Linked DNA regions of Homo sapiens: region 2 is linked to region 1. Evidence: fine-mapped QTL for protein levels in blood plasma. A gene starts in region 1. The other region holds a variant in brackets. All regions are shown on one strand. Distances are from middle to middle.

Region 1 (15,327 bases):
CCTTGCACCAGTCAGGATTCCCAGTGCAAAGAGAACCAACCCAGAAAGGCACTCGCTGAAGGGCTGTGGGGAAGCTCTCACAGGCTCAAAGGGAAGGCGGAAAGCCTAGACTGAAACTAGCCAGGCTGCAGACAAAACCAAAAGTCCACCTGGCATGGTGGCTCACACCTGTAATCCCAGCACTTTGGGAGGCCAAGGTGGGCAGATCACGAGGTCAGGAGTTCAAGACCAGCCTAACCAACATGGTGAAACCCCGTCTCTACTAAAAATACAAAAAAAAAAAAAAAATTAGCCGGGCGTGGTGGCACATGCCTGTAATCCCAGCTACTTGGGAGGCTGAGGCAGGAGAATCGCTTGAACCTGGGAGGTGGAGGTTGCGGTGAGCTGAGATCGTGCCACTGCACTCCAGCCTGGGCAACAGAGCAAGACTCTGTCTCAAAAAAAAAAAATTCTACAAAATGCAAACCAATCTATAGTGACAGAAAGCAGATGAGTGGCTGCCTGGGAATGGAGTTGGGGAGACGGGTGGGAGGGAGGGACGACCAAGAGACTCAAGGAAACTTTTTTGAGGTGACCTGTCAGTGAATTATCCCTATCATACAGATGAGACAAATGAGGCTCTTTGGGATTAACTTACTTGCTGATGGTCACACAGCTGTGAAAGGTCAGGTCCAGAATGGGAGCCAGGTGTGCCTGAATCCAAACGCTGTGTGCTTTTTTTTTTTTTTTGAGACAGAGTCTCGCTCTGTCACCCAGGCTGGGGTGCAGTGGCATGATCTTGGCTCACTGCAACCTCTGCCTCCTGGGTTCAAGCAATTCTCCTGCCTCAGCTTCCTGAGTAGCTGGGACTATAGGCGCACGCCACCACACCTGGCTAGAAACCCTGTGCTTTTTAACCTTGGGTGGAAGGTGACTAGCAGACAAGGGGCCAGGAGTGAGGGTCCTTAGGATTGAACACGGGCTACACAAAGAAACCCAGAGATGGCCCCTGCTTAAACATGGTGTTCCAAAGAGTGACACGTGGGATGAAAACAAGGTGGGCTGAAGCCAGGCCCCACAGAGTTTTCAGAGCAGGTCCTGGTGCCCTGGGCGAGACGGCACAGAACAGCACCGCAGGGGGCTGGGGCCAACTTGGACTTGCTTGGGAGAGCCAGCTGTCCACATTTCAGTAATGTCATGGGTCAGTTGTCAAGCATAGCCATCATTAAAAATTAAATTGCATATGCTCACAAAGTATGTCAAAAGAGCAAAGGTAATATGCAACACTTACCACTTCCTGATTATGTTAACATGTTTGACTATCATTTCTGCTTTTGGGGTTATCCACGCCTCTTGTATCTGTGCGGTGGAGACATCATACCCTGGTGTGCCACTGGGCATCTGTTCCCAACTCCACATCCACAGCAGCTTGAAATTGGACAGGGCAGGGTTATTTATTTACACCATGGAAACTGGTAAATGCTAAAGTCAGGGCCAACGCCCTGCACCCTGCGCCCACTCTCTGCCGGTTGCTAAACACTTTTGTCATTACATCATTGAGCCCTAGGGTCTTGGGCCACCCCCATGGGGAGCAGGAGGCCTGGGACTGTGGCTGAAGGAGGACGCATGGAGTCAGAGGCTACGAGGCCCGGAACTGCCTGGAATGATGGTATAAGATGGCCAGGATGCACCGAGCCCTGCTGCCCGGCACGTTTCTCATGCATTTGCTCACTGCTCACTACCACCCTGAGAGGCAAAGCATCGTTACCATCTGCTGGTGGGGAAACTGAGGCACAGAGAAGTGACTTACCCAGGGCCACTCAGCTAATAAGTGTCACAGCCAAGATATGAAGCCTGATCCTTAACTGCCACGCTCTGCCCCCTTCAAAGGTACAAGTGTCGGACTGGGGATCTGGCCTAACCCTTCCCTGAAACCTCCAGCTGTGTGCAGGCCCCAGCCCCCAGAAGCCTGGAGTGAATTTCAGTGACCACTCAGCCTGTGGCCCCGCTTCCCCTGTAGGCAGCCAGTAGTGGGAGCCACGTTTCATGCAGATCTGAGGGCTAGGGAGGCCAGATGCAGGTGGGCCTCTTCCCAAGACAGTCGGGGTCCTTTCTCCAGGTGCCCTGGAGCAATATGGGCCAAGTTGGGTGGGTGGAACCGCTACGGCCTCCTGAGGGCTCAGAAGAAGAGAAATTCCAGGAATGCAGCCACCTGAGGGACCGCTCAGGTGACAGAACCCCCGAGCACCACCAGCCCGTCCTCAGCCCTCTTTTACTGGCAGTCTGCCTTATGCCGGTGCCGGGCACACTCAGGAGGGAGCAGACTCCATGCGGGGGAGCCTGCCGCCAGTCCCCCTCCCAGGGGAGAGAGGCAAGGGGGCTGCTGCAGGTCCAGGGAAAGGCTGATGCATTGATGGTGGGAGAGGAGGCAGCGTGATGCTTTGCATGGAGTTTGACCTTGGCATTGGTGGAGTCCTGAAGGATTTTCAACAATTTAGGGGAGAGAGAGGGAGACAGTGACATCTCCAAAAGGTCAGTCCGGCTGCCAGTGGAGCAGAGGTTGTGGTGAGGGCAGGGGGACCACCTAGGAGGCTGGAGTGGCCAGTGAGCGGCTGCCGCGTCCTCCCCTAAGGCAGAGCACAGGGCAGTGGCTGCAGAATTGAGCAGAATTGAGGCCTATTGGATAGGGGACAGGGAGGCAAAGAGCCTGATGGGCGTGGCACCCTTGGCCAAGGTGTAGGGGCAGGATGGCAGGGTCAGGTTTGGAGGTATATTTGAGAGCCCCCAGGATGCCCGGTTCAGATGACTACAAGGAGCTGGTTCTGTGGAGGGGGCTGGGCAGGACGTCTTAGGCCATGGGTGAAAATGGAGGATGGTGTCCAGGGAGATGGTGAACCCGTGGGAGTGGGTGGGACATCCGTGATGGAGAAGAGGAGACCTCATGCCCAGGACAGATCGGAAGGCATGAGGTCTCCTCTCCCACCCCCACCCAACCCCCTCTGTAGAGGGGACAGCTTGGAGGTGTGAGCCACACCACCTGGTCAAAGACCCACTAAGACAATCCCTGGGGGGCTCCTCTCCAAGGGCTTCTTAAGGGCTGGGCATTGCTAAATGCTGTACAGGATTTTTCTCATTTAATTCTTACAACAGCCCCAGGGATTGTCCCCATTTTACAGAGGAAGCTGATGGCTCAGGCGTGAGTAACCACCCCAGGCCAGTGCCCAGCTTGTGTCAGACCTTCTGAGGAAGCCAAGTCTGTCTGACCACAAAGCTGCCTCCTACCCAGCATTCCTCTGCAGGGTCCCTGCCCTGCCCTGCCCTGGGGGACTCCTGGGGGAACCACATCCGTGCTTAGGTGTGGCATCCAGGGGGCACTGGGGAGGGAGCCCGCCGAGGGGTGCCATGCGGGACTTGGCGTCCCCACCTGCCTGGTCCATTCCTCCCCCCACCCCACTCTGCCCTGCCCTGCTGCCACCTCAGGGACCTCTGTGGGCTCTAGGTCCTTTCCATCCCTTCCACAGCCTGGACAACAACAGGCCCTTTCCCACTTCCTGAGAAAGTTCCCAAAGAAGTTCATTGTAAAAGCTACTCTTTGTCTTTTTTTTTTTTCCAAAAAATGTGTTTTTAATCAATTTTATAATAAAATCCAAACTGAGTTCTTGAAAACAACAGCAATAAGAAATTGAAAAAAAAAATCTCAGTGCCAGGAAGTACTGACTCTAGCACTGCCCTCCCCAGCCCCAGCAGCAGCCCTGGTGCCCCATTCCCCTGACTCCCTCCCCCACTGCTGGTCACCAGGCCTCCTGAAGCCACCTCTGGAATATCCCTGAACTGCTCTCCTTCTGTCTCTGGAGGGCACCCCACCCCCCCACCCGCCACCAACTGCTCTTCCTGCCTCCTACCTGGCACCCTTCCAATCTGGTCCCCAAACTGTCCCCAGGGGCTCTCTCTAAAAGGCAAACCTAATTCCATCAGTGTCCTTTTCTCCAACTTCATCAGGGATTCAGGATTCCCAGGAATAGAGCTCAATTCCCTAGCTCGGCATTCAGGGCTCCACTGTCCCTGAGCACTCCAGCCTCCCCCTCGCCATGCACCGGACCCCCTGCTTTTGGAAATGTTGGTCCCTCTGCTACGGACACCCTCCCTCCACCTGTCCATCTGACAATGCACCTCATTCCTCAACAGTGCCCCATGGACACTCACCTTCTCCTGCCCTCCCTCGTCACAGTGTGGGGGTTTCTGTCATCTCACCATTCTATCCAGGCTGACCTCGAAGGCCTGGGCTCCAGCGATCCTCCCACCTCAGCCTCCTGAGAAACTGGAATGACAGATGCACACCATCATGCCCTGCTTTGGTTCTTTAGTTCGCCCTATATGTGCCAAGTCCTGTGCTAAGTGCTGCATACAGTGGAAAACAGCGCAGGCAGGAACCCTGCGCCCACGGAGCTTATTATCCCTGCTGTTGTTGCCCAGGTAGACCAGTCATCCTCGGTGCACGGGAGCCACGCATACACACAGCTGACCAAAGTGCCTGCAGGCAGCCTGTGCTGCTTAAGCTTGTGGGGAGAGGGAGGTTTAGAAACAGCTGCTCCCGTCCTCACCAAGGGACTCCAGCCTAGAGAAGGAGTCTTTGGGGAAAGTCCCCCACTAAGCTGCCACGCCCTGAGATCACGCACCCTCTCCCAAGGGCTCTTCCGAGCACCACGTGGGGCTGAGTTACTGAGATGGAGGTGGCAGCAAGGGATGCCACGCAGGATGAGCAGGGAGGCATCATTCTGAGTCCTGCCTGCCCCTCCCACTTCCACCTTTTCTTTTCTCTCTTTTTTTTTTTTTTTTTTTTTTGAGACAGAGTATTACTCTGTCGCCTGGGCTGGAGTGCAATGGCACGATCTCAGCTCACTACAACTTCTGCCTCTTGTGTTCAAGCAACTCTTGCGCCTCAGCCTCCCAAAAAGCAGGAATTACAGGTGCATGTCACCACGCCCGGCTGATTTTTGTATTTTTAGTAGAGACAGGGTTTTGCCATGTTGGCCAGGCTGGTCTTGAACTCCCGGCCTCAAGCAATCCAACCTCCTCTGCCTCCTAAAGTGCTGGAATTGCAGGTATGAGCCACTGCACCTCACCCTTTAAGCAGTATTTTAATGGTTTTGTAGTGGTGGGTGGTTGCTATGAAAATCTCACGTTTGTTCTAACAATTCAAAGAATAAACAAGCATATAAGGAAAAAATGGATAGTCTCTCCCCTGTCTCCCTCCCCCAGCCCACCCCTGGCTCAAGTCAACCTCACTGAGGCAGAGTGGGTTAATAATTTGGCAAGTTCATTTCCATTTCATCCCAGCACTCATGACAATACACCCGAATGACGCACCCAGAGAGAGGACCCTGCAGCTTTGCTGGGTCAGACAGATGTGGCTTCCTCGGAAGGTCTGACACAAGCTGGGCACTGGCCTGGGGTGGTTACTCACGCCTGAGCCATCAGCTTCCTCTATAAAATGGGGACAATCCCTGGGGCTGTTGTAATAGAGGGTGAGATGAAATGCATTGCTTGGAACTTGCTTTTGAACTTAAAAATGTACGAACAGACATCATTCCAAGGTGATACATACAGAGTTAGCACACACGCTCTGTGACTGTGTACACTGTTTCCTGTGGACCTTTATTCACTTGTTTAAAGGGTGCTCTACAGACATTTTGGCTTATTTTTCTTCTCGAACAAGGAATGCTCTAATAAGCCTCCTCCTGCATGAATGGTTTAAGCAGTAGTTTCGTTACTCCCTGGGTTTAGGATAAATTCCCCAAAACAGGATCACTGGATGAAAGGGTAGCTGTGGTTAAATTGTGAATAGGGCTTGCCATTTTATTCATAGCGATTCCCATGTGCCCCAGGACTGTGGGGGGATCCCAGTTCCCCACACCCTGGCCGACTCTAGATGTTATCCGTTGGTCTAGACCTTGGCCAACATCATAAGTGAAAACTGACATCTCATTGTTTTGAAATTGTGTTTCCTGAGTATGACTAAGGTTAAACATCTTTTCACCTGTTAGTTGGCTTTTAAAATTTCCTCCTCTGTGAAGTTTCAGATCTAATCCTTTGCCCGGTTTTCAGTTGTGTTGTTTTTATTTTATTTTATTTTCCCAAGTCCTATTCTGCCCTAATGTTTGTTTGTTTGTTTATTTATTTATTTTGAGACGGAGTCTCACTCTGTTGCCCAGGCTGGAATGCAGTGGCATGATCTCGGCTCACTGTAAGCGCCGCCTCCTGGGTTCACGCCATTCTCCTGTCTCAGCCTCCGAAGTAGCTGGGAGTAACAGGCTACCACCACCACGCCCGGCTAATTTTTTGTATTATTATTATTTTTTTTTTAGTAGAGACGGGGTTTCACCATGTTAGCCAGGATGGTGTTGATCACCTGACCTCGTGATCCTCCCGCCTCAGCCTCCCAAAGTGCTGGGATTACAGGCGTGAGCCACTGCGCCTGGCCTGTTTTTATGTCTTTTACAAACACCTTGTAGGACCTTTTTAGGACATTATTGATATTAATCTGTTGTTGTTTATATGTGTTGCAAATATTATTGTCCAGTGTAATATTTGGCTTTTGCCATACAGAAGTTTGTATATATTTAAGTTTTCCTTTTGTTATGGAAATTTGAAAACACACTAAAAAATAACAGTAATAATGAACCCTCAATATACCCATCTCTGAGAGTCAACAGTTAGCAACATATAGCTAATTTTCCCCTGTTATGGAGGGTTCTTTTTGACTTTGCTTGTGGTGGTTGTGCAATGCAGAGATTTTTACCTTTATGTAGTCAACTGTAGCGGTCTTTTCATTTGTGGAGTATGGATTTCATATACCTAAAAAGGTCTTCCCACTCCACGATTATTAGCAAAACAAAACAGAAAGTACTCTTTCAATACTTCTAAAATATGATTTATTATTATTATTATTATTATTATTATTTTGAGACAGAGTTTCGCTCTTGTTGCCCAGGCTGTAGTGCAGTGGCGCGATCTCGGCTCACCGCAGCCTCTGCCTCCTGGGTTCTAGTGATTCTCCTGCCTCAGCCACCTGAGTAGCTGGGATTACAGGCATGCGCCACCATGCCCGGGTATTTTTGTATTTTTAGTAGAGATGGGGTTTCTCCATGTTGGTCAGGCTGGTCTCGAACTCCCGACCTGAGGTGATCCACCTGCCTCGGCCTCCCAAAGTGCTGGGATTACAGACGTGAGCCACCGCGTCCAGCTATGATTTATTGTTTTTAGAATGGTAGCATAGTACTTTTTTCATATAGAAGCCCATAATTTATTTAACCAATCCTCCATTACTGAACATCTAATTGTTTCTGATTTTCCCCTATTTTAAATCATGCTGTATTGAGCATTCCTGACTTCTCCACCCCTTCTGGATTAGGTCAAAGCAAACCTGAGACATCAAATCATTTCATCCACAAATATAAGTTTATAATTTTTATTTATTTTTTTTTTGAGAAAGAGTTCTGCTCTTGTCGCCCAGGCTAGAGTGCAATGGTGCGATCTCAGCTCACTGTAATCTCTGTCTCCTAGGATCAAGTGATTCTCCTGCCTCAGCCTCCTGAGTGGCTGGGATAACCGGTGCCTGCCACCATGCCCGGCTAATTTTTGTATTTTTAGTAGAGACAGATTTTCACCGTGTTGGCCGGGACTCCTGACCTCAGGTGATCCACCTGACTCAGCCTCCCAAAGTGCTGGGATTGTAGGCATGAGCCACTGCGCCCAGCCAAGTTAAAAAAAGTTTTTAAAATAGAGATGGGGTCTTGCTATGTTGCCTTGGCCTCAATCGATGCCCCTGCCTCGGCCTCCCAAAGTGCTGGGATTACAGATGTGAGCCACCTCACCTGGCATTCAAATTTTTATATTATAGCCAGGCGCAGTGGCTCACGCCTGTAATCCCAACATTTTGGGAGGCCAAGGCAAGTGGATCACCTGAGGTTGGGAGTTTGAGACCAGCCTGACCAACATGGAGAAACCCTGTCTCTACTAAAAATACAAAATTAGGTGGGTGTGGTAGCACACGCCTGTAATTCCAGCTACTCGGAAGGCTGAGGGAGGAGAATCGCTTGAACCCAGGAGGCGGAGGTTGCAGTGAGCCAAGATTGCGCCATTGCACTCCAGCCTGGGCAACAAGAGCAAAATTCCATCTCAAAAAAAAAATTATATTATAAAGCCTGTTAATCTTCTGGTCTTTCGTCTTCACTTTTAATTTTATTTATATTTTGATTAGACACGGTATTCACATGGTTCAAGATTCAAGAGAACAAAAGGATATGCTGAAAAATGCGTTTCCCACCCTGTTCTCCAGCTCCAGTTTCCTTCCTGGGAAACAACTCGTGTTATCAGCGCGTGCACATATAAAAGCAAATTGTGTGTCTCTGTGCTTTTTCCATTTAAGTACAATTGATAAACGACTTGAACACGGCTCTGCGTCTAGGTTTTATTACTAAACAACCTGTCCTGGGGAGCGTTCTGTAAGGAGAATCCTAGTTATTTTTGATAGCCATATGCATTCCATTGCAGGGCATACAATAATCATTCATTTATCCCATCTCTATTGGTGGACATTTAGGTTGTCTCCAGCTATTAGATTGGTGCAAAAGTCATTGTGGTTTTGGCTCAATGTTGCAGCGATGCAGTGGAAAGCCTTGTGTATTCCTTTCACTTACGTGTGAGCATTATCTGTAGGATAAATTTCTGGAAGTGCCAAGTCAAACAGGACATGTGTTTATATGTTTGATAAATACTGCCCAAATATTCTCTTTTGAGGTCGAGTCAGTCTACACACCAACCAGCAATGCAGGGGGTTGCCTGTTTTCCTCCCACCCTTGCGAATAGTGTGTTACCAAACTTTTTTTTTTTTTTTTGAGACAGGGACTCACTCTATCGCTCTGGCTGGAGTGCAGTGACACGATCATGGCTCACTGCAGCCTTGACTTTTCAGGCTCAAGCAATCCTCCCACCTCATTCTTCCAAGTAGCTGGGACTACAGGCACGTGCCACCACGCCTGGCTAATTTTTTTTTTTTGGTAGAGACAGGGTTTTGCCACGTGGCCCAGGCTGGTCTCGAACACCTGGTTTTAAGTGATTCTCCTGCCTCAGCCTCCCAAAGTGCTGGAATTACAGACATGAGCCACTGTGCCTGACCTACCAAACTGCTTTTTATCTTTGCTGATCTGGTAAGTGAAGAATAGTATCTTTTGTAGTTATAATTTTCATTTTCTTAATAAGTGAGTTATTGAACATCTTTTTACATGTTTATGAGCCCATGAATTTTCTTTCTGCAGGAGCAAGCACTGTCTCTTCATCTTTTTTTTCACAGGGGGTGGACAGAGTCTCTCTCTGTTACCCAGGCTGGAGTGTAGTGGCGCAATCTCGGCTCACTGCAACCTCCACCTCCCGGGTTCAAGCGATTCTCCTGCCTCAACCTCCCCAGTAGCTGGGATTACAGGCACCCACCACCATGCCCACCCAATTTTTGTATTTTTAGTAGAGACAGGGTTTCACTGCATTGGCCAGGCTGGTCTCGAACTCCTGACCTCGTAATCTGCCTGCCTTGGCCTCCCAAAGTGCTGGGATTACAAGCATGAGCCACCACGCCCAGCCCACTTAGGCTATTTCTGATTTTCCAGTATTATAAGTAATACTGCAGTGAAAAGCCTTGCATATAAATATTCTATTTCCTTAGGCTAAATTTATTTATTTTTTTGAGACAGTCTTGCTCTGTAGTCGAGGCTGGAGTGCAGTCATGTGATCTCAGCTCACTGAAGCCTCTGCCTCCCAGGTTCAAGCGATTCTCGTGCCTCAGCCTCCCAAGTAGGTGGGACCACAGGCATGCGCCACCACACCTGGCTGATTTTTGTGTTTTAGTACAGACACAGTTTCACCAGGTTGCCCAGGCTGGCCTTGAATTCCCGACCTCAAGTGATCCACCTGCCTTACAGGCATGAGCCACCACGCCCAGCCTCTTCAGGCTAAATTTCTGAAAGTGATCTTCATTCCTAACCCCAAACTGCCCTCCAGAAAGCTGGGTTGCACTTCTGCCACAGCAGGATCTTTACTCCTCTTAAAATCTCCGCGGAGCCTGGGTGGGAGAGGCAGAGCTCCGGGGGGAAGATTCTCTCCTGGCCTGATGTAGTGTTTTCCTTGGCTTGTCAGACATGGAGGAGATTATGCCAGATATGATAGTGGAGAGAGTCAGACATGCATGAGACTGGAGAGAGAAAAAAAACAAAATAGCCTCTGAGGTCTCACTCACAGCCTACTTACTCTTACTTTACACACAATTCTATATTCCGATATGTTTGTGACCTGGTTTTTAAGAGTACAGAGCAAATTAGGAAGGAGAAGCAAGGCTGCTACCTAGAGGTACCCTGGTCCTCCATGAAGTTTCCAAAAGAAGAGCAAGTGCAAGTAAAATAATAAAACACAGCCAGTCACAAAGCCATCAATTTGGACCATGCAGTGCAAGGCTTTAACTGTCCCAAGGATTCCAATCATGGATAAGGAAGAGCTTAAATTTGATTATAAATCTGAAAGTCTGGAAGTCAGCTTGAATATTGTGGTAGACATAATCATATCCTCCTCCTCAAAAGATGCCCTGGTTCTAATGCCCAGAATCTGTGAATATGTTATGCTACCCCACGAAGGGAAATTACAGTTGCAGGTGGAATTCAAGTTGCCAATCCATTGATTTAAAATAGAAAGATTACCCTGGATTATCTGGGTAGGCCCGATGTAATCACAAAGATGCTCACCAGTGGAAGCAAGAGGCAGAACAGTTGGTGTCAGAGTGACAGATTGTGAGAGACTGGTGGGCCACTGCTGGCTTTGAAGATGGATGGGGCCACCAGCCAAGGAATGTGGGCAGCTTCTAGAAGCCAGAAAAGCCAAAGAAACAGGTTCCCTTCCAGCCTCAAGAAAGCTGTATCCCTCAACCCCCTTGCTTTTAGTCCAGCGAGACCCATTTTGGACTTCTGATTTTACAAAACTTGTAAGATAGTAAATTAGTGTTGTTTTATGTTTGTGTTACGGCAGCCACAGGGAACCAATACAAATATTATCTGGTACCGCCCATTAAAGCTGCTCAGAGACAGGGAGCCCCACCCTGGCGGGGCTCCGGTGGCTGCACAACCTCTGCAAGCAGGATCAAGATGAGAGGCGCAGGCCAGGTGTGGTGGCTCACTCCTGTAATCTCAGCACTTTGGGAGGCCAAGGCGGGCGGATCACTTGAGGTCAGGAGTTCGAGACGAGCCTTACATGGTGAAACCCTGTCTCTACTAAAACTCCAAAAATTAACCAGGCGTGGTGGCGTGCACCTGTAGTCCCAGCTACTCGGGAGGCTGAGGCAGGAGAATCGCTTGAACCCAGGAGGAGGAAGTTGCAGTGAGCGGAGAAAGTGCCACTGCACTCCAGCGTGAGCGACAGAGCGAGACTCTGTCTCAAAAACAAATAAAGGAAAAAGAAAAAAATGAGAAGCGCGTGTTCCCGACTCCGGTGCTTTTTCGCAAGGTCGTGCTACTGCGCCTTCTGAACTACGAGTCCCAGGTACCAAGAAAGTTGAATTGCGTGCTGTGGCGGGTCCGTTATCTGCACCACCCGTCTGCACGGGATGCGCTGGCTTCCTGCCCCGGATGCACAAGGCTCCCTGCGGGACACTCAGGGCGAGGCTCTGAGCCCCTCCCCCGCGGCAGATGCCGTCCAGATGTGGCCGGCGGGTCCCGCGGGCTGCGGCGACAGGGACCCCGTCGGGGGCAGCAGGAGCCCTGGTGCATCCCAGGCCCCGGGGGGAAGGCCGGGCCGTCGGAGGAGCGGAGGAGCCCTGGGGGGCTCCCGGGAAGCCGCGGGCGGACGGGGGAGGAGCCCGGGCGGAGCTGCGGGCGGGCGGCCCGCTAGGGGTGAATCGGGTGGAGTAGTGGTCGGGTCCGGTTACTTCCCTTTAAAAAGACGGGAAAGGAGGAGTCCAGTGCTGGAGGGGCAGGGACGGCGGCGGCGCAGCTCGGAACCCGCCAGGGTCCAGGGTCCAGGTTCCAGCGCCCGGCGGCCCAGGCAAGTGGGGCGGGAGGGCGGGGGCTGCGGGCGCGGGTAGGGGTCGTGGGGCAGTTGGGTGCGCGGGAACCGAGGGAGCTGCAGACCCAGCGCTTGGCGCGTGCGGAGCTGGACTTCTGCGGCCGCGACGCCCCTCTTCCCAGATGGGTAAACTGAGGGCCAGGGAAAGCGAAGAATTCTTTTGGCCGAGCTCCCACTACGATCTCGCGGTCAAGTGGGTCCCCAGCGGGCCTCGCAGGGGTCGGAGGGGCTCCCATCTGGGGAGGGGGCCCCAGGGTGGGCGAGGGCGACGGGAGCCTGGGGAGGACGGACGGGGAGGGCGGCGGAGCGGAGCTAAGCTGCGGCGGGTGGACCCGGCTCGGCCGCGGCCACTCTGTCCCTGGTGGGTGGGGCGCGGCCGAAGGCAAAGGGCGAACCCGGCCCGCCTGTGGGGTCTCTGGCCAACACTGGGCTCAGAGGCCCTTTCTTTAACCTTAGATCTCGCTCCTCGGTCTAAAGCCTCCGCCGCAGCTCTCAGTGAAGAGGAAGGGGAACTCTAGGTGCTCAACGCCCGCGTTACAGTCGCGTTCTCCCTCGCTCCTACAACCCGGCCAAGATGCCGGGGCATGGATGGGGACCGAGGTTTGGGGGTTGTGGAGCCTATTCCACGCCCTCCCTGGTGAGCAACTGAGACAGATCCAGGGCCCCATTGCAATCCACTCTTGGTCTGGGAAAAGGTCCCCTAAACAGGGCCAATGGGATCCTTTCCCCAAATGACTCCAGAACGCACCCCCCCCCCCCAGCAGTGCGGTGGGCAGGGACGGCCCAGGTGGGCTATGTCCTGGGGTTTTGTGACTGGATCCCCACTCCTCCCCCACCTCAGCCCCTGGACTGCAACCCACCAGGCCGTGTTCGGGGGTGGTCAGAGCCCTGGTCTCAGCCAGACCTGAGGTCTGATGTGGCTTCATCCCTGAGTCTCTAAACGCCCTGGCCTTACTGGGCCTCAGTTAATTCACCTGTGAAAGGGGAGGCTTGGACCAGAGGGCCCCTCAGGGTATGTGTTTTGTGGAGGGGAGGTGGGCGTGTGGGGTAGGGGTGACCAGGAGGAAGTGGGGACAGCCTCTGTCCCACAGGAAGGCTGGCTAGCCCCAGTGGGTATGGGGGAGCTGGGCAGGGAAGAGGGTGGACTCCCCTCTCCCTGTGGGAGGGTGTGCTGGGCCCATGAGGCCCTCATCCACTCTCAGCCACCTTCCTGTGGAGCCCTAGCCTCGAAGGCCACACTATGAGTGCAAGGAGGCCACCCACAGCGCTGCTCCCGCTTCACAGGTGGGGAAACCGGCCCAGTGTCTTGAGGCAGCCCAGCCGCCTGCCCTGTGCTTCCCCCAGAGCCTTCTGGGGAATGAGACCTTCGTTACACGCTGGCGCTCCTTACACCCCTACAGCCTTTAAGCTAAGGCCTCCAGCCCCATCGCTGTAAGAATTGTATGCTAGGCATTCTGAGGACATAGATGGGGGTCCCCATGTCGGAAGGAGCCAAGGTGTTGGAACTGGGTCCAGTTCCTGGGCTGGCTCTGGTGGGAGATCTGGAACCCTATGCTGGGGCTCCTGGACAGCCCTGGAGGCATGGCATGGACAGTGTGTCAGCCGCACACCGAGGCCCTGGGGTGTCCTTATTCACATAGGCTGGCAGCCATCTATCCCTAGCCCGGGCTTCACCCCGGGTGCCTGTCACTCCTGGCCCTACAGTGGTCCCAGTCACACCTTGGAGGCAAGATGTGGGTCCTCCACAGGCCTGTGTCTGGAAGCAGCCCCCAGCACTCCCTGGCTAACAAGTTCTACTTCTGAGAACTACCCCCAGCTCCCAGCCCTGGTCTGGCCAAATGGGTGCGTGTCTTCTCCTGTGGTCTTCAACTCCCCTTGGCACGGCCACAGTAGATGTGAGGGGCTGTATGGGAGGACATTTTTAGGAGGCATATGTAGTTAAGCTGTGGAACCTGCTGCTAACTAGCTGTGTGGCCTTGGGCAAATCACTTAACCTTTCTGTGCCTCAGTGTCCTCATTTGCCAAATGGGGGTGATTATCCTGGTAGGGCACATAGTAGGTGCTCAGTTTCACCTACCATGTGTCTCACCAGGATAATCACCCCCCATTTGGCAGACAGGAGTTGCCAGGCAGGATCTGTGGCCCCACACAAACCCTATGTGTACTTCCCCCACCCACAAATGCCTCTGCTCCTTCCTCCTGTGTGCCCTGCATTGGGCTGAAGAGGCTGATGAGAGGCAACTTCCCATTGGGGCCTTCTGAGGTTCTTGCAGGAGGGGCAATGTCCAAGGCTCCCAGAGGAAGCACCCTGGGGTGATGCAGCTATGGGCGGAGGCCTCAGAAGCCTGGGAGAAAGCCAGGGGCCTGCGGGGACAGAGTGTGCCCTGGCCCAGGCCCAGCCTCGTCCCTACCCTTCTCGCTCACTGCTCCCTCAGAGCAGACAATGAGCCCCAGGTTGTCCCTGAGCTCCCAGTCTCATAGTTCACAGTCAGGGACACTGAGTGGGAGTGGGTGGGGCCTACCCAAGGACCCAGTGGTCGGGGATGGAGCATGGATAACACAGCAGCTCACCCGGCCACGGGTGCTCAGCTCTCCCGGCCACAGCCCCTCCCAGGCTCCTGGAGTCTTCATATTAGAGTAGAAAGCCTCTTGCACTTCACATCTGAGACCAAGGAGCCTCTCCCCACCCACAAGTGTGGGTGTCTTCCACACTGTGACTGTGACTTAGTTATGCCCTGGCATGATCGTTGTCAACCTTCATGTTTTTTGGTTTTGGCTTTGGTTTTAGTTTAGAAGAACTTACGTTTTCTGGACTAAAACATAGGCAGGGAAGAAATACATAAACCCATAGAAAGGCTGCTTTAGTTGAAGTGGGTTGAGAGCTCGGCTTCTACCCCGTCAAGAAATTCACAGCGAAAGGAACACATGCATTTTGCTCACTGGCAGAAAGAGCCTGCACCAAAGACAACCCGCAGGGCCAGCAACCCCAACATCATACAGGGTGGAGCAGCAGTTCCCAAAGCGGGTGCAACTGGACAGGATCCTTTTAGGAGCTACCTAGAGGAACAATTTTTTCTTTTTTTCTTTTTTTTTTTTTTTTTACTTGAGATGGAGTCTCACTCTGTCGCCCAGGCTGGAGTGCAGTGGCACGATTTCGGCCCACTGCAACCTCCGCCTCCCGGGTTCATGCCATTCTCCTGCCTCAGCCTCCCGAGTAGTTGGGATTACAGGCGCCCACCACCACGCCCG
Region 2 (13,389 bases), 18 kb after region 1:
CTGCCTCAGCCTCCCAAGTAGCTGGGATTACAGACGCCCGCCACCACGCCCAACTAATTTTTTTTGTATTTTTAGTAGAGACGGGGTTTCGCCATGTTGGCCAGGCTGGTCTTGAACTCCTAACCTCGTGATCCACCCACCTCGGCCTTCCAAAGTGCTAGGATTACAGGCGTGAGCCACCACGCCCAGCCGGGAATGATTTTTAATCATTCTACTATTTGGTGTTTAATATGTTTTCTCACTAAATCTGTTCAACAAACCTGAGAGGCAAATACTGTTATTTATTTATGAGGAGAGAGGTTCAGAAGGGTAAAGTTACCTGCTCAAGGTCACAGCTGGAAAGAGGTGAAGCCTTCAGCAAAAAAAGCAAAACAACTCATTTCATTTTATTCCGTGAGCTGATAATGGAGGAAAAAGTATTTGGCAAGAAGCGGCAGGGAGGGGAACCTGGAGGAACTCCCTGCTCTTGAAGAATGCAAGGGAGGCTGGGACCTTGTCACTGAGGAGCCCCTGGCATCCTTCCAGAGATGCAACCAAAGGGGTGACCCCAGTGTGTTCTTAATAGGAGCCGGGAACCCCTTCTCTGTGCACCTCCCACCTCTTGCCCCTGGGAAGTCCTTCCCTGACTCTAACCTCAGTTCTGATGCTGTTCCCACCCTCTCAGCTCTCAAGCAGATCAATGCAATGCCACCTGGCCGCTTGCTTTGCCCACTGGGCCTACAGCCGGAAGCCTGCCCTTCAGCCCTCGGGCCTGATCCCAGGCCGCCTGCAGCCTGTAACCAGACACTGTTTGCTTCCAGCAGGCACCCCCCGAGCCCAGCTCCACACACCGTTCCTGGATCTCCTCTCCCCAGGCGGAGCGTGCCCCTGCCCAGTCCAGTGACCTTCGCCTGTTGGAGCCCTGGTTAATTTTTGCCCAGTCTGCCTGTTGTGGGGCTCCTCCCCTTTGGGGATATAAGCCCGGCCTGGGGCTGCTCCGTTCTCTGCCTGGCCTGAGGCTCCCTGAGCCGCCTCCCCACCATCACCATGGCCAAGGGCTTCTATATTTCCAAGTCCCTGGGCATCCTGGGGATCCTCCTGGGCGTGGCAGCCGTGTGCACAATCATCGCACTGTCAGTGGTGTACTCCCAGGAGAAGAACAAGAACGCCAACAGCTCCCCCGTGGCCTCCACCACCCCGTCCGCCTCAGCCACCACCAACCCCGCCTCGGCCACCACCTTGGACCAAAGTAAAGCGTGGAATCGTTACCGCCTCCCCAACACGCTGAAACCCGATTCCTACCGGGTGACGCTGAGACCGTACCTCACCCCCAATGACAGGGGCCTGTACGTTTTTAAGGGCTCCAGCACCGTCCGTTTCACCTGCAAGGAGGCCACTGACGTCATCATCATCCACAGCAAGAAGCTCAACTACACCCTCAGCCAGGGGCACAGGGTGGTCCTGCGTGGTGTGGGAGGCTCCCAGCCCCCCGACATTGACAAGACTGAGCTGGTGGAGCCCACCGAGTACCTGGTGGTGCACCTCAAGGGCTCCCTGGTGAAGGACAGCCAGTATGAGATGGACAGCGAGTTCGAGGGGGAGTTGGCAGATGACCTGGCGGGCTTCTACCGCAGCGAGTACATGGAGGGCAATGTCAGAAAGTGAGTTCCGGCTGGGCTGCCCGGTGGGGTGGATCCGAGGTGCTGAGGCAAGGCTGGATTCTGAGGGCCAAGGAAGGACTTAGCTTGCAGGCCTTTGAACCCTGTGGAGCCCGAGACTGGCCCATTGCTTCACCTCCAGCTGCTGGCAAAGCAGCTGCAAATGCACCGAACTGGGAGGGCTTCCCCACCCCTCACCAGGGAGCTGGGGATGAGGGACAGAGCGTCCCTTGGACAGACAGGAAAACCGAGGCTCAGAGGAGAGAAACTCACCCGAGGTCCCTGAGAGCCTGCTGGCACCCCGAATCCAGAAGGAGCCCCAACCCCCACGAGTCAGCTGGCCTGGCAGGGCTCCGGAGGCTCCCGGCGAGGCGGGGGTGGGAGCAGGAGCAGGGGTTAGGCTGGGGCAGCCTTCCATGTACCCCTTTCCCTGCATGCCTGGTAGCATCCTCAGAGCCCCTCCCACACCCCCAGCTCTGGCACACCCTCTAACCTTCCTGTTGGGGCAGGGTGGTGGCCACTACACAGATGCAGGCTGCAGATGCCCGGAAGTCCTTCCCATGCTTCGATGAGCCGGCCATGAAGGCCGAGTTCAACATCACGCTTATCCACCCCAAGGACCTGACAGCCCTGTCCAACATGCTTCCCAAAGGTGAGTGGGCCCTGCCTGCGGCCACAGGGCCAGGGGGCAGGCACCCTGGGCTGGGGTGTGGGGCAGGAGGGTACGTCCTCACACACACATGCTCCCTGCCCAGGTCCCAGCACCCCACTTCCAGAAGACCCCAACTGGAATGTCACTGAGTTCCACACCACGCCCAAGATGTCCACGTACTTGCTGGCCTTCATTGTCAGTGAGTTCGACTACGTGGAGAAGCAGGCATCCAATGGTGTCTTGGTATGAGGCTGGGCCCATCTCTCCTTCACGTGGGCTGGCCCCGGCTTGAGGGGTCTTCCCGTTCTCTTCATCCCTGTGCCAGTTTCTGAATTGTTAGGCCAGGGTTGGAATCCCACCTCTGAGTGATTTCAGGCAAGTGTCTTGTTCTCTGGTTCTCCATTTCTGCACCTGAAAAATGAAAACAATGGTTTCTCTTCATGAAGGGAGTTCCTGACCCACCGGTTACCAGACAGACGGTGGCTATGATGATTGTTATTCTCCAAAGGCCCTTCTCTAGGACCCACAGCCTCCAGACCCCAGTAGCGTTCCCCTCTGCTGACCAGGCCTCTAGGTTTAGCTTGATTGGCCTCCAGCCCTGGCCCATCAGGGATCCCCCCAGCCCACTGGGCCCTGGGACCCAGCCCACCTGCCCCAGGATCAAACAGGAGCCCCTGGTCTGCTTCTTCCTCACACCTTGCAGATCCGGATCTGGGCCCGGCCCAGTGCCATTGCGGCGGGCCACGGCGATTATGCCCTGAACGTGACGGGCCCCATCCTTAACTTCTTTGCTGGTCATTATGACACACCCTACCCACTCCCAAAATCAGGTGAGTGGGGGTCCTTGAGGAGGGAGGCAGTGGATGGAGCTCCACTCCCGGAGTTCATCCTGCCAATGGCATCGCCTCCCCAGACCAGATTGGCCTGCCAGACTTCAACGCCGGCGCCATGGAGAACTGGGGACTGGTGACCTACCGGGAGAACTCCCTGCTGTTCGACCCCCTGTCCTCCTCCAGCAGCAACAAGGAGCGGGTGGTCACTGTGATTGCTCATGAGCTGGCCCACCAGGTAGACCCCCATCTCGGGGAGTGCGGAGAAGGAAACAGGGGCTCCGAGAGGAGACGGCGCAAGTCCAGGCTCTGCCCCGGGCTGCTGAGAAGGGAGGAGGGTGCCGCCTGGCAGGGCAGCAGGAAGGGGTCACGATGGTGTTGAAATCCCCACTGTGCCTGGCAGATGGCCAGCCCTGGGGAGGGTAGTTCTGGGGATTCTCAGTGCCCAGCCTGGGCGTGGCTTGCCCAGCTGACCCCTCCCCCCACAGTGGTTCGGGAACCTGGTGACCATAGAGTGGTGGAATGACCTGTGGCTGAACGAGGGCTTCGCCTCCTACGTGGAGTACCTGGGTGCTGACTATGCGGAGCCCACCTGGAACTTGGTAAGCCAGCTGCCCAGGGGTCTGGTGCGGGGGGCATGGAGGGAGACCTGGGCCACCGCTACCAGGCCAGTCTCCTGATGGCCCTGGGGAATTTGCAGAAAGACCTCATGGTGCTGAATGATGTGTACCGCGTGATGGCAGTGGATGCACTGGCCTCCTCCCACCCGCTGTCCACACCCGCCTCGGAGATCAACACGCCGGCCCAGATCAGTGAGCTGTTTGACGCCATCTCCTACAGCAAGGTGCAGCCCGCTCCTCGTGGGGCACGGGGAAGGAGGTGGGGACTTGGCCTGGAGGGGCCTCACTGAAGGCAGGGTCTGGGGGCACAGGGTCCTGGTGGCTCTGCACAGCCTTCTGAGCGCCCCCTCACCCCCACCCCAGGGCGCCTCAGTCCTCAGGATGCTCTCCAGCTTCCTGTCCGAGGACGTATTCAAGCAGGGCCTGGCGGTGAGTACTGCACCCTGGGCCAGCCATGAGGGTGGGTCTCCTTCTGCCCCTCGCCCTTGACCCGGGCCTCTGCCCACCACAGAGGGGGAGCCTGGGGGGCTCCAGCTGTGCTCTCACTGTGCCCCGTCTTTCCACAGTCCTACCTCCACACCTTTGCCTACCAGAACACCATCTACCTGAACCTGTGGGACCACCTGCAGGAGGTCAGTAGCAGCCAGCCCCTCCACAGCCATCCTGTTGGGGTCTTGAGATGCTGAAGGTACCTGGGGGCAGCACATGCGTAAGAGAATGGGTCCAGCTCCGCGGCTGACCAGCCCTGCAGGGTGGATGGAGCCTCTGTTGCTCCTCCCTATAGTGGAAGCCGGGATGGCTCCTTGCAAGAGGTGTCTGAGTGAGGCTGTGGTTGAGGTCCTGGCCAGCAGCTGACCTCAGGCTACAGCGGGCTTCTTGATGGGAGCTGTAGAGCCCCTTCCTGGTGGTGAGGAAACTGCCCTCATGGTTCCCGCCTCTGCCTGGAACTCTGGAGCCTGACATTCAACCTTCTCCCCACTCCTGGCTGCCCTGTGCCCCCCGCTGGCGCCACGGGCATGTCTCTGCACACAGCTCCACCACCCTCAGCAGGAACTCTGCCCTCTGCCCCTGCCCCGGCTCGAGTTCCTCTCCATCAGACCCCGCACAGCCCCTGTTTGTAGGGCAGATCCCCAGACTGCCACACCCTCCTGCCTTCCCCCAGAGGCCGCCGCTCCTCTCCCTCCCCCAGGGTTGGAGTCCACCTCCTCTCCATCCTGCCCCCATCATTTCCGCTGACATCATTTCCCTGACAGCTGCCCCCTACCCCTTCCCTGCAGCTCTGCCCAATGCTAGCGTCTTAAGCCAGAGGACAGACATGTCCTCTCCTCACCGACAGCCCCTCCAGAGTTCCGAGCCTCAAATTCCCGTCCAGCTTCTACCCCACTGTTGCTGCTGCACTTCCAGTCCAGGCCTGTCTCACCAGGGAAGCGAGACCCAGGATCTTGTCACAGAGTCACAGCTGAGGTCCGGGTCCCTGCTGGGCAATTTCCAACCCCCTAGACCCCAAGATGCTGCTGACAAAATGACACTGTCATTGCCTGGGTCTCCCCCACTACCTTCCTTGCCCTGCCCCAACTTCCCCTTTGCGTTCCCTCCTAAGCCAAGCTCTCCTCCCTCTCACTCCTCTTTCCTGAGACCCTCGGCCGGCAGCCCCCAGCTGGTTCCTCCCCACATGCTCTTCTGCCCTCTGTGTGGCCCCGTTCTTAGGTGATTCCTTTCTTCAGTTATTAACAAATGGGGTTGGCTTTCTGTTGTGATGACAAAGGCAAGGCAGGTGCATGAGCAAAGATCCAAGAAGACAAGAAGACAACAACAGTGCCCCTGAGTCCCGCCCCACACCCCAGTCCGAGTGCACTTCCCTCATGCGACCCCCAGGGCCCCGTCCCCCACCCCTGCCTGTGACACCTGAACACTGGCTTTCTCTCATCTCTGTCTCCTCTTTCTTGTCCTCCTCCCAGTGTTGTTCAGGAAGAGCCATGGGCATCCTGGGCACCCCCTCCCTGACATACACACCTCAGGGTGGACCACAGAATGGAGGGCCTCATAGATTTGCTGGGAAGTTCTCCAGCTCGTCCAGCACTGAGCAGCCGAGGAGAGGCAGAGCTGGACGGTACCCTGGCTCCCGGCTCCCAGCCCAGTGCCCTTCCCAGGCCTCCCATACAAGTGGCCCCCCGGGGTCGAGGCGAGAATCTGCAGGAGATGCCCTGGATGGCAGGGACTGGAGGGTCCCACTGATGGCCACGCCCTCTCGCTCCACCCACAGGCTGTGAACAACCGGTCCATCCAACTCCCCACCACCGTGCGGGACATCATGAACCGCTGGACCCTGCAGATGGGCTTCCCGGTCATCACGGTGGATACCAGCACGGGGACCCTTTCCCAGGAGCACTTCCTCCTTGACCCCGATTCCAATGTTACCCGCCCCTCAGAATTCAAGTGAGCAGATGGGGTCACTGAGGCATGGTCAGGTGGGTGGGGTAGAGGGCAGTTACTAAGGGACCATAGTAGGACTGGCCTCCTGTGGTCCCAGCCCCAGCCACTGTAGACAGACCCTCCCTCCAGAGCCAGGAGTTCAGGGGCACTCGGTGCCAGAGCTGGGCAGAAGCTGGGAGCCTGGGCAGCTGCTCCTCACTGGCAGTGACCACACCGCCATCTCTCACCACCTCTGGATCTTTAATTGCAGCTACGTGTGGATTGTGCCCATCACATCCATCAGAGATGGCAGACAGCAGCAGGACTACTGGCTGA[T/A]AGATGTAAGAGGTAATCCAGCCCTGCCTTATGGGCAGCAGCCCCCACCCCATACTCCTAGCTCCTGGCCCATGTTCTGAGGGCTGTGATGGGCCATTCCATTCAACAAATGGACTTGACTTCTTTGGTTCCAATCTCCACTTTGCTGCTGCTTCGCTGTGTGACTCTGGGCAAGTTACCATCCCGCTCTGGTCTCTAGTTCCTCTTCTATAAAATGAGGCTAAGAGCAATACTCCATTAGTTATGTGAGGATTAAAGGAGAGAATCCTAGGCCAGGCATGGTGGCTCATGCCTGTAATCCCAGCACTTTGGGAGGCCGAGGCGACCTGGGGTCAGGAGTTCGAGACCAGCCTGACAAACATGGAGAAACCCCATTTCTACTAAAAATACAAAATTAGCCAGGTGTGGTGGTGCATGCCTGTAATCCCAGCTACTCTGGAGGCTGGGGCAGGAGAATTGCTTGAACCTGGGAGGCAGAGGTTGCAGTGAGCCAAGATCGCACCATTGCACTCCAGCCTGGGCAACAAGAGCGAAACTCTGTCTCAAAAAAAAAAAAAAAAAAAAAAGGAGAGAATCCACATAAAATGCTTAAAGTAGTGCCTGGCACATGTTATGAGCAGCCCTACTCAGCAAGGCACTGAAGAAGCGAAGGGCATGACAAGTCATCCTTTGCCTTGGCCAAGGCTACAGATGAAGGAAGGCAAGAAGTTGGAGGCATTCTAGTGCTGTGCTGAGTGCTTTCAGAGTGTATGGTTGGGGCTAGTGAGGTATGGGGACATGGAGCAGGGAATAAGGGAGATTCAAGTTCATGGAGAGGTCAGGGAGGGCTTCCCGGAGGAGGTGAGCTGAGTCTTAGAGGAAGAGTAGGAATCAGACAGGCTAATGTGGCAGAGAAAAGAATTCCAGGCAAAGGGAATAGCAAGTGCCAGGGATAGAGGTAGGAGAGAGTGTGGGGACTGAGTGTAGCTAGGGCAGAGGTGTGCCCAAGAGATAAAGCTGGTCCCCAAGGGCCCCAGGGGCTGCAGGAGACAGTGGATGGGGCAGGTGGGAAATGAGCAACCTATTGGCCCTGACCTCTGGCTGCTGAAACAAAGTATGAGAGGAGTGAGGGAGGAGGGGGACCCACAGGGAGGAAGGGGCACTAAGCCCCAGAAAGAGACAGCAGCACTGGGGGTCTGGGTGAATGGGAGGGGAAGGGAGAGGAGGAGCTGCCTGTGGTTCCCACTTGGGTGACAGGTGTGATGGAGTGTGGAGGAGGGCAAGGAGGAGGAACAGCCTGGATTGCTGAGTGTGAGCGGCCTGGCAGCTGGCCTGGCCGTGCAGAGCCTAGGGAGGCAGGGCAGGTTCTGAGGTTTGGGGTGGCATGTCATCTTCATGGGTTGATGGTCTGTGAAGCCACTGGCAGCCCAGTTCCTCATCCCTTCCTTCCCCACCCTTAGCGTCTCCCCAGCAGCTTGAGGGTGAGGTGGTGCCAGGCTGCGGGGGCAGCTGCTCTTGCAAGAGGTCCAGGGGTCAGCCCATGGCCTCTGAGCAGCCCTGCCCAGGTCTCGTCCCTCTCCACAGCCCAGAACGATCTCTTCAGCACATCAGGCAATGAGTGGGTCCTGCTGAACCTCAATGTGACGGGCTATTACCGGGTGAACTACGACGAAGAGAACTGGAGGAAGATTCAGACTCAGCTGCAGAGAGACCACTCGGTGAGTGTCTGCCACCCCTCGCCCTGCCCCCTGCCCCAGGACAGGCACCAGACTGCAAGGCCTGCCACCCACAGCCAACCCATGGTCACATGCTGTGCTTCGCATTCTAGGCCATCCCTGTCATCAATCGGGCACAGATCATTAATGACGCCTTCAACCTGGCCAGGTGAGTGCTCCGCTGCCTGGCTCAGCTGCAGAAGCTCGTGACTTCAGCAAGTCTGAGTCCACAATGAGGGCCCCTGCTCCTCCTGCTGCCCTTCCCATATGCCACGTGCTGTGCCCTGAGCTCCTGTGCTCCCTGGACGTCCCTCCCTGGGTCCCCACACACCCATTTCACAGATGAAGAATGTGACACCTTGCCCGAAGTCACACAGTAGTTCATGACAGCCAGACAGAGGCTTGTCCAACTCCAAAGCCATCCTCTACTCCACAGCACCAAGCTTTTTGTTTTTGTTTTTGTTTGTTTGTTTGTTTGTTTGTTTGTTTTGAGACGGAGTCTCGCTCTGTTGCCCAGGTTGGAGTACAGTGGCGCGATCTCAGCTCACTGCAGCCTCCACCTCCCAGGTTCAAGCGATTCTCTGCCTCAGCCTCCCGAGTTGCTGGGATTACAGGTGTGCACCACCATGCCCAGCTAATTTTTGTATTTTTAGTAGAGATGGGGTTTCACCATGTTGGTCAGGCTGGTCTCGCACTCCTGACCTTGTGATCCACCCACCTCGGCTTCCCAAAGTGCTGGGATTACAGGCATGAGCCATGGCACCTGGCCATGCCCCCCCGCTTTTTTTTTTTGAGATGGAGTCTTGCTCTGTCACCCGGGCTGGAGTGCAGTGGCGTGATCTTGGCTCACTACGACCTCTGCCTCCTAGATTCAAGCGATTCTCCCTTCTCGGCCTCCTGAGTAGCTAGGATTACAGGCATGTGCCACCATGCCCAGCTGATTTTTGCATTTTTAGTACAGATGGGGTTTCACCATGTTGACCAGGCTGGTCTCAAACTCCTGACCTCAGGTGATCCACCTGCCTTGCCATCCCAAAGAGCTGGGATTATAGGTGTGAGCCACCGTGCCCAGCTGCACCAAGCTTTTCCTGAAGGCTGACTATGCTGGGCCACTGTTCTAAGTGCCAAAAATCTGGGCTGGACAGGGCAGGAGGGATGCAGTATGGATAAACAGGTACTTATTGAGCACCTACTCTGTTTGGGGTGAGGTACTCTAAGCTCTTGGACATGAGTGATGTCACCCACAGACAAGGACATTTGTGAGCTAAATGTGTACAGAAGGCAGGAGGAAGAAAGGCCTAGAGTGCCCAGAAAGTCAGAAGAGGTGGTCAGAGTTAAGAACACGGGCTTCTTGCCCTTTTAAATCTCAGCTCTGTCTCTCGTGAGGTGTGTGACCTTGGGCAAGTCACTTCACTTCTCTGAGCCTCAGTTTCCTCATCTGTAAAATGGGGATAATAAGCAAAGGAGTGGAACTGCCAATGGGTGAGGGTGGGGCCTTGTTTGTGGCACCACCCAGCAGCCATGTAGCTCTTTTTCCATGGCAAATGCCTGAGCTGGCTCAGTTGGGAATCTGGGACCTCCGGCTCCAGGAGTGGATACAGGGGGCCTAGGGGTGTGGAGCATCTTTGAGGGCCTGGGTTGGGGTTCCCAGGCTGTGGCTGGGCTGGGTGGAGGTGCTTTACTTGGGCCCCTCTGTTTATTCCCAGTGCCCATAAGGTCCCTGTCACTCTGGCGCTGAACAACACCCTCTTCCTGATTGAAGAGAGACAGTACATGCCCTGGGAGGCCGCCCTGAGCAGCCTGAGCTACTTCAAGCTCATGTTTGACCGCTCCGAGGTCTATGGCCCCATGAAGGTACGGAGGTGCATGGTAGGGTTCAAGAACCAGTTCGCCCCAGTGCCTGAAAGTGCACTATTAGGAAGTTAATAGACTATTGCCTACTGGACTCCTGGTCAGGGAACCTTCAAAAGCAAAACAAAAAACCAAAAAAAAAGAAAGATTGCCTTGTCAGGTTCTCTCCTGAGAGCACGCAGGTGAAAGAGCGAGCCGGAGGGACATGGAGGTGAGTGAGCAGGCACTGAGGAGGTGAGTGAGGAGGCTGCGTGGGGCAAAACAATAAAGGTCGCGGAGACTTCAGCAACGTTTGTTGATTTGAAATATGGGGAATTAACGCTTTCAGAAGGCACAGAAAAGGCCACCATGCTGAGGGCCAGAAGACCTGTCTTTTGCCAGCTGTGTGGCCTTGGGCAACCCTTTCTCAGACCCAGTTAACTTCTCTGTCAGATGGGCAGGCCTCTACCTGCCCGGCCAGCCCACCTGCGCTATGAGAGAGATGTGGGTATTGGCTGCTTTGGAGTATCTTAAGGCTGAGCATAGGGGCCTATTTGAGGGCTGAGGCTCCCGCTTGGGAGACCAAAAGGAAACTCGAGCTTATTCTGGATGAATAAGCTACATCCATAGGATGCTCACTGCAGCAGTTTATAAAAGACAAAAAGCAAACAAAACACAAATACTTAAACGTCTAAAGGTTGAAGATTGGTTAAACTGTAGAATATCCATTTCAGGGTGTGATATGTAGTCATTAAATCATGCTTGAAGAGATCTTTTTTCATTAAAAAATGTTCAATTATCAGGCCGGGTGCAGTGGGGCTCATGCCTGTAATCCCAGCACTTTGGGAGGCCGAGGCAGGCGGATCACGAGGTCAGCAGATCGAGACCATCCTGGCTAACACGGTGAAACCTCGTCTCTACTAAAAAAAAAAAAATACAAAAAATTAGCCAGGCGTGGTGGCGGGCACCTGTAGTCCCAGCTACTCGGGAGGCTGAGGCAGGAGAATGGCATGAACCTGGGAGGTGGAGCTTGCAGTGAGCCAAGATGGTGCTACTGCACTCCAGCCTGGGCAACAGAGCAAGACTCCATCTCAAAAAAAAAGAAAAAAAAAAAGTTCAATTATCTGTTAATATCCATTATGGTAAATGAGAGATTTTGGTAAATGAAGTTTCAACCCTCTTACTGCTTTCCCCACATTCCCCATCCTCCTAATGTAGTTAAATCATAATATTTAGTCAAATCAGTGTTAAGCATTTGCTTTATTGTGATTATCTAAATAGTATTCTCTGCTGAGCCATGTAGAGCACTATGTTTATGTTTCCTTTTTTGTACACAGTTACAAATGTATCACACAATAGGTCAAGTTTTTGTTTGTTTGTTTAGAGACAAGGTCTCACTCTCTTGCCCAAGCTGGAGTGCAGTGGTGCAATCAAGCTTCACTGCAGCCTCAAATACCTAGGCTCAAGGGATCCTCCTGCCTCAGTCTCTCCATTAGCTGGGACCTCAGATGTGCACCACCATGCTCTTTTGTAGAGATGCATCTTTTGTAGAGATGGGATCTTTCTGTATTGGCCAGGATGGTCTGGAACACCTGGCTTCAAGCAATCCTCCCTCCTTGGCCTCCCAAAGTGTTATGATTATAGGCGTGAGCCACTGTGCCCAGCCCAGTTTTGAGACTGGACTCCTCCTGGAGTCCTATTCTGCCTGCTCTCTTCCAGAGCTGCCACACAGCTCCCATGCTTGGAGGTGCCTCCCTCTACTGTGTTTCCTGCATCCCATGGATTCTTTGATTTTTTCCCCTCTCATAGGGGAATACATCTTCCAGGAGTTTTTGAGAAAGGGTTCATGAGAGGTGACTTTTCTGGGGTAGATCATCTGAAATGTCTTTATTCCACTCTCACACTGGATTGAGCGTTCAGCTGAGTTTAGAAGTTTCAAGGTGGGAAATTATTTCTCTGAATGTTTAAGGTCTTGCTCCACTGATGTCAGGCTTGCCATGTTGCTGATGCGATGCCCAGAGCCATTCTTATTTCCAGTTATTTGAATGTGACCAGTTTTCCTCCCTTCTGGAAACTTTGGGAGCTTCTCTCGGTCCTGGTGGGCCTTGGTTTGGGCCTCGTCTCCATCTACCTTTTCCAATCAGGACTGGCATTCACATCATCTAGTATTGGAAGATTTTGTATTGCTTCTTTAAACTTTATTCCCTTCACTTTTTCCAGTTATCTCTTTCTGGAACCCCTGTAATCCAGCTTATTTCTCTTGCTTTCATCCTCTAGTTTTCTTTTTCTCTTCTGTTTTCCAGCTTGTTGACTTTTTATTCTGCCCCCTGGGAGGTTCCCTCAGCTTTGCACACCACCTCACCTAGAAATTGTTTTCATTTCTTCTGTCGTATTTTTAAATTTCCAAGTGTTCTTTCTGATTCCAGCATCCTATGCAATATCTTCTCTTCACTCTCAGAGGATATTTATTACAGGCTCTTATGAAGTTTTCCTTTTTTTTTTTTTTTCCATTGACTCGTTTCCTCTTGAGTTTTGTGTTTGTTTTGGCCTCTTTTCAAGTTGGAGGCTGAGCCACCCCTTTGGGTTTGAGACAGACACAAACAAAATGCAAGTGGAAGCTCCATGGGAAGGTGGAGTGTGTTGTCCGGGGGATCTCATTGCGAGGTGACTGGGTGGCCAAGTAACTCTTCACTGGGGACCCTCAAAAATTAGTCCATGGGTTTGTTCTCTCGAGACAAGGCAGTTTTTCCAGAGAGTAAGCCTCTGTATTGTGCAATGAGGCTGGTAGTACTCCCATTCTAGGACACAGGAGGGAAGGGAACTGGGGTGCCACCTTTCAGTATGGAAACTTTCACCTCTGACCCTCTTTGCAATCCAGCAACCCTCCCACTGTGGTCTGGTGACCCCACTTTCTGAGCCCCCTGGTTCAATCTCTCTCATGGGGTGGTGAGGGGTGCTGCCCTCTACAAGGAGGGAAGTGGGGACTTGGGGGTTGAATGACTCCTTCTGTAGACTTTGACTTCATCTTCCTGTTTGCAGTCCTTACCTCCCCTCTGTCCCTTGCTGACTTGTCCCTTTAATTTTTTTATTTATTTTTATTTATTTATTTATTTTTGAGACAGAATCCCACTCTGTCACCCAGGCTGGAGCGCAGTGGCCCGATCTTGGCTCACTTCAACCTCCACCTCCCAGATTCAAGCGATTCTCCTGCCTCAGCCTCCTGAGTAGCTGGGATTACAGGCGCCTGCCACCATGCCTGGCTAATTTTTGTATTTTTAGTAGCTTCGGGGTTTCACCACGTTGGCCAGGCTGGTCTCAAACTCCTGACCTCAGGTGATCCGCCCGCCTCAGCCTCCCAAAGTGCTGGGATTACAGGCA

Which allele goes with the higher level. Alleles are on the strand shown, and positions count from the first base shown. The strength of an association depends on the size of the effect and on how common the allele is.
In carriers of allele A in region 2, the plasma level of the protein whose gene starts at base 11,977 in region 1 tends to be lower than with T alone (moderate association).

The links. PIP is the chance, under the fine-mapping model, that this variant and not a neighbour inherited with it causes the effect. Protein levels are from antibody-based Olink assays in UK Biobank. Linkage for the fine-mapping came from a reference panel and not from the study's own genotypes, which makes the PIPs less certain.
Region 2: its variant is fine-mapped to the plasma level of the ANPEP protein (UK Biobank, PIP above 0.99). The variant lies in the coding sequence of ANPEP. If it changes the protein, the assay may bind it differently, which can mimic a change of level.

The regions. Positions count from the first base shown.
Region 1 is chr15:89,811,502-89,826,828 of GRCh38, reverse strand. ANPEP (alanyl aminopeptidase, membrane) reads left to right here and starts at 11,977. Exons shown (of 21, transcript NM_001150.3): 1 at 11,977-12,057. LOC124903551 (a long non-coding RNA gene) reads left to right here and starts at 1,375. Exons shown (of 2, transcript XR_007064753.1): 1 at 1,375-1,869; 2 at 3,130-3,645. RefSeq lists enhancers at 1,362-1,411, 1,461-2,134, 4,052-4,552, 4,553-5,053, 11,909-12,408, cis regulatory regions at 11,594-11,596, 11,614-11,643, 11,642-11,645, 11,553-11,681, 11,933-11,938 and promoters at 11,553-12,041, 10,887-12,041.
Region 2 is chr15:89,794,221-89,807,609 of GRCh38, reverse strand. ANPEP (alanyl aminopeptidase, membrane) reads left to right here. Exons shown (of 21, transcript NM_001150.3): 2 at 804-1,640; 3 at 2,147-2,289; 4 at 2,393-2,532; 5 at 2,993-3,119; 6 at 3,203-3,357; 7 at 3,608-3,721; 8 at 3,820-3,963; 9 at 4,103-4,168; 10 at 4,306-4,371; 11 at 6,003-6,175; 12 at 6,423-6,499; 13 at 8,051-8,184; 14 at 8,295-8,350; 15 at 9,888-10,035. The coding sequence starts at 1,027. Among named protein-coding and RNA genes, the nearest start is that of ANPEP, 14 kb to the left of the region's middle. RefSeq lists cis regulatory regions at 896-899, 874-911, 632-913, 923-926, promoters at 632-1,023, 912-1,026, 874-1,026, 18-1,026, 1-1,074 and an enhancer at 2,473-3,672. The variant T/A (reference allele first, on the strand shown) is at 6,488.